Linked DNA regions of Homo sapiens: region 2 is linked to region 1. The links come from fine-mapping of genetic effects on gene expression. Tissue or cell type: whole blood. Region 1 holds a variant in brackets; the other region holds the start of a gene. All regions are shown on one strand. Distances are between the middles of the regions.

Region 1 (2,840 bases):
CATTGCCTCAAGACTGGCCTCCCGGGTTCACCCTTGCCCTCTACATTCTATCATCAACACCTATTTTTTTTTAAAGTAAGTTAGACTCTTTGCTCTAAACCCTGCAGTAGTTTCTCGTTTCTCTCGCAGAGACCTTCAGATCTTTGACTTTGTTTACTACTCCTACCTCTTGTCTTCCTGCCAGCTCTGCTCCTGCCACACTGCCCCCCTGGAGGTTTCTAGAACACTCAGGGCATGCTCCCACTTTGGGAAATTTGTCCTGGATCTTCTCCTTGTCAGACTGCTCTTTCCCCAAATAGCCACATGGCAGACTCCCTTGTCACTTTCGAATGTTTGTTCAAATCTCACCTTTGCAAGGAGGCCTATCCTAACCACCCTTATTTACATTTGCAACTGCCCCAGCATGCCAGTTGCCTTTTAGTCCTTTTATATTTCACTTTTCCCTAGCACTAAGACCTTCTAGCATATTCTATTACATATTACGTTTTATCTTTGTTGCCTTACTGCCCCCACCTCCCCACACATACACCAGAATCTAAGCGCCACAGGATAAGGGATGTTCAGAAACTTTGTTCTGTTCACTAATTTATCTCCAGTACCTAGAAAGATGCCTGGCACATAGTAGGCACTTGATAAATATTTGTTGAACAAATTACAAAAAATATAGAGAAGAGATTGGAGAGTGGCTGAGAGCAGGCCTGATGAGAGGCCATGGCAGCGGTCCAGGTGGCCTCTGCTAACGGTGTTGGCAGCAAAGAGGGAGAGAGGTGAACCCACTCACTTAAAAAGTAGAACAGGTAGAGAGCTGGGCGTGATGGCTCACACCGGTAATCCCAGCACTTTGGGAGACCAAGGTGGGCAGATCACCTGAGGTCAGGAGTTGGAGACAAGCCTGGCCAACGTGGCAAAATCCTGCCTGTACTAAAATACAAAAATTAGCCAGGTGTGGTGGCTCATGCCTGTAATCCCATCTACTCAGGAGGCTGAGGCAGGAGAATCACTTGAACCTGGGAGGTTGCAGTAAGCTAAGATAGAGCCACTGCACTCCAGCCTGGGTGACAGAGCAAGACTCTTTCT[AAAAC/A]AAACAAACAAACAAACAAACAAACAGCAAAAAAACCAAAGTAGAACAAGTAGAATTTACCATTGGTTAAGATAAAGGCTGGACAAGAAACGTCAAGATTCACCTTGTATAACTGATTGACAGTGCAGATGGATGCTGAGGTGTTGGCAACCTCTGGGTATGGGGAAAGGCAATCAGACAGACCCGGGGTACAGAGAAGATGGTGGCTAGAGCTAAAACTCAGGCAATTTTCCCCTTAAAATTTTCAGATTTCATATAATGTAGGCACAGTGGTAAGAATTTAGATCAGGGGCTGGCAAACTGAGACTTACTGCCTGTTCCTGTAAAGAAAGTTTGAGTGGGACCCAGCTACACTTGCCAATGTTTTGTCTAAGGCTGCCTTCACACCACAAGGGCTGAGTGGAGTATTTGCAAGAGAAACTATATGACCTGCAAAGTTGAAAATGTTTACTCTCTGGCCATTTACAGAAAGTTTGCTGACTCATGCATTAGATCATAAAGAGCCTAGAGTTTTATTATTGCCCCTCGAGTAAATTGTTTCCCACCTCCTTTTCCTAGGTCTGTTCTGGGCTGTCCTTTTGAGGCTCTCTCTGTTTACTGGTGGAATTCATCTGCTTTCTGAGTTGTGGGAATTTGCCCAAAGTTCTGGCTCACTGGTGGACCCCTTGCATGTTCACCTTGTTATGTGTACTTTCATCTCAATTGCCAGTTATATAGTAAGTGCTCAATAAATGTGTTGGTAGAATTGGGGAAAGGAAGCAAATGGGTCTTCCATCTGCCATCTTGCAATGAAAGCCTGACACAATCTCAGCTACATAAAGGAAGAGAACTTCTGTTACTCTTTTACATGAAGCTCTAGTTTTATTTTTAATTTTTTAAAAAAAATTTATTTATTTATTTTGAGACAAGGTCTTTCTCTGTCACTCAGGCTGGAGTGCAGTGGCATGACCACAGCTCACTGCAGCCTCTTCCTCCCAGGCTCAAGCTATCCACCCACCTCAGCCTCCCGAGTAGCTGGGACTACAGGTGCGCATCACCACATCTGGCTAATTTAAAAAAAAAAAATTATGGAGATGGGTGTGTTACCCAGGCTGGTCTTGAACTCCTGGGTTCAAGCAATCTCCCACCTTGGCCTCCCAAAGGGCTGGGATTACAGGTGTGAGCCACTGTGCCTGGCCTGCTCTGGTTTTAAAAATGATTCCAGCTTGTCTGAGGGCTTACTTTGTATGTACCTTCTTCGTATGACTTCTAATTATTTTCACATAATAGGTGGGTCTGGTAATTTCCTAGCTAGGTCCCATTTGTCTTTGTGTAAATGATTTTTCATTTAGAAGGGTTCCAAAAAAGTAAAATAGATATTCTTATTTTTTTCACCCTTCATCTTTTATCACTGTTCTATTACATGGTGGCTTTTCTTGTTAACAAACCCATAATATCAGTCTGAAATATCTTTTAAATATAATAACTATGCTTTAAATGTGACATGAAAAATGAATTGCTTTTATAATTCTAAATAAGACATCTATTTTAATCTTTTCAAAGCTGATGATTTCTCTTTATATTTAAAAATAAATCACCAAGATTCAATTTGAAAGCCAATTGTCTATGGAGGCACTAACAATTATTTGGTCTATTCAAGTGATAATGTAAAATAAAGTTTACCTATTTTTAAATAGTTGAAATATTAATTCAAGAGAAAGACTTTTTAAAAAAAAATTAGTATAAAATGCGTTTGAAATAATATGAGGGATCAGGATGA
Region 2 (2,500 bases), 66 kb before region 1:
ACACTTAGCCAGAATAGACACGGTTTCATCAAAATTTCCAAATGCTCTTGGGACAACCTTGAGGTGTCATCATTGGGCACCCACTGCAGGGCAGACACTAAGAAGGGGCTTTGCATTCATCCATCTATTCATTCATAACAATTTCTGGTGTTCTTACTAGGGACCAGGCACAGTTCTAGGTCCAAAATGTCCAAAAACAAAAATCCACTGCTCTTTTATCCTTAACTGAGGGGAGGTGTTGAGGAGCTGGGGAGACAGACTGAAAGTAAACAAATTCATATATAATAAAATCCAGCTGCATTAAGCATTAGGAAGAAAAAGAAGGCAGGGCAGGAGAATACAAAACGAGGGAGCAAGGTTTCTATTTTAGATACGGTAGTCAGGGGGTCTTTCTGAAAAGATGGCACCTGGGTTGTCCCTTGAGAAAGCCATAATTCACCCCCTTCCTGACAAGGTCAGCTGCTGCTCATTATTGAATCTCCAGCGCATAGCAGGTGTGTGGCTCCACTGTAGGTGTTCAGGAAATACCTGCCCAGTGGATGAGGAAGAACTGGAAGAGGAGTCCACGGCAGCAGCGGCCGGACACGGGGTGGGAGCGCCCGCCGTGCAATAATCATTGCACCACCGCACACCTCCCAAGGGATGGGCAACTTTTCCGAGCGCTGTCACAGCTGAGGTCGTGTCCTGAGCTCCCAGGCGCCCCGCGGGGTAAGCAGGACAGCCCTCTCCCTGCAGCAGGGACGCGGCCACCCCCAGCTCGCCTACCCTCTCCCACGGCCCTGCCAGCACGCCGCGTTCCGATCGGAAGGGAACAAGGGGTAGAAAGTGTTGCCGAAACTTTTCGGGCTGCGCTGTCCTCCCCCGGCCCGGAGGCGAGGACGCCGAACAGCCGCCCGGCGCGGCCCGAAGCTGGCTTCCGACCCGGCGGGGCGAGTCCCGGGGTGCGCAGGCGGACGCGCGGAGGGGCCGAGGTCTGTGCCACAGCGGAGCGGGGCCGGGGCGAGGGGCCGCGCCGAGACAAAGCGGCGGTGGCGGCAGGACCCGGGTCGGGGCCGTGCGCGGCGGGCCCCGCGCCCCCTCACCTGTCGAGCCAGAAGGTCCAGGACGAGTGCAGCGGGACCCCGCCCGGCTCAGGCTGCAGCGCCGACAGCTGCTGCAGGCCGAGCGGCGGCTCGGGGGCGGCGGCAGCGGCGGCGGCGCGGGACCCCGGCGGCTCCCGGGCCCCGGCGGGGGGCGCGGCGGCCGGGGGCAGCGCCATTTTCTCCGCCCCGCCTGCAAGGCCGGCGGACGCGCGGACCGCGGGGCGAGCGCGGCTGAGTCACCCCCGGCCCCCGCCCCGCCCCGCCCCGCGCGCCCCGCCCCGCCCCGGGCTAGCCGCCCGCCGCCCGCCGCCCGCCGCCCGCCGCCTTCAGGGCCTGGGAGCCGCGCGGAGGGGCCGTGGGAGGCACGGCCGGGCCGGGGCCGCCGAACAAAGACAGACCCACGGAGGGATGGGGGGCCGATCCCGCTCAGGCGCGGGCCCAGCGTGGGAGACTGACGGCCTGGCCTGGAGTGGCGGCCGGGGACGGGCTAGAGGGCCCACGGGGGTGAGAGGGACCGGGGAACGGTCTGCGGGCTGGCTCTGCAGCCATGCAAAAGGGCAGCGGGATGGAGCGGCAGGCTAGGGACAGATGGAGGGATGGATGGGACAGGGGATGGAGCCCCAGACCCACGTGGTGCGAGGGAAGGAGGGATGGACAGACATACCAGCAGTCAGAAGGATGGAGTGAAGGCTGGCAGATGGCTGGAGGAGAGAAGGAGGGATGGAGGGCAGATGGAAGCACAGTTGGGTGTGACAGATAAATGGAGAGGGGAACCGATGGCCAAATGGATAAAGAGACTCCAGTGCCCGCGAGTACAGAACAAAGGGCGAGAAAGAAGAACGAACAAGAGAACCACCGACTGGGGCATGAGGTTGGAGCAGGTGGGCTTTGCATTCCTCTTGGTGAGAGCATACTTCCTAACTCCGCTGATTTGAAGGGGCCAGAGCCCCCATCCCAACCTCTGGAGCTACCATGTGACCACAGTGAAGGCCTCAAGCCTGGCTTAACGTGTGGCTAACTTCAGAGAACATTTCCCAAAATCAGCCAAAGTATCCAGATCTGCCCTAAAGCACCGGCGAGTCGGGAGGAGGAAAGCGGGCACCTGTGAACACAGAGCGCTCTGCTTCCTGTACCTCTGAGCACCCAGGAAGTCCCTTAGGCGGTGAGATTCCTGAGCCCAAAGTAGGAGGGGCCCTCCTAACACAGCATCTCCCCAGGTCTCTGTCACTTTCTTTTTCAAAAGAAAAGCAAAGGCATGAGGCCTGTGAACACACATGTCACAACCAGCATGGACATCCTCTTTACACTTGAATTTCTAGATAGTTCCTCTCTGGCTTTGAACAGTGAAGGGCGTGGGATGCCATCTCCTCATTGACCTTCTACCTGGCCTAGCATGTGTTCTGTTCATGCCTTGAGCA

The links. PIP is the estimated chance that this variant, and not a neighbour inherited with it, causes the effect.
Region 2: it holds the start of EIF4E3, and the variant in region 1 is fine-mapped to the expression of EIF4E3 in whole blood (INTERVAL, PIP 0.95).

Annotation. Positions count from the first base shown.
Region 1 is chr3:71,790,259-71,793,098 of GRCh38, forward strand. No RefSeq gene overlaps it. Among named protein-coding and RNA genes, the nearest start is that of PROK2, 6.5 kb to the left of the region's middle. The variant AAAAC/A (reference allele first, on the strand shown) is at 1,078.
Region 2 is chr3:71,724,110-71,726,609 of GRCh38, forward strand. It overlaps EIF4E3 (eukaryotic translation initiation factor 4E family member 3), which reads right to left and starts at 1,293. Exons shown (of 7, transcript NM_001134651.2): 1 at 1,083-1,293. The coding sequence starts at 1,258. RefSeq lists silencers at 698-817, 948-1,017.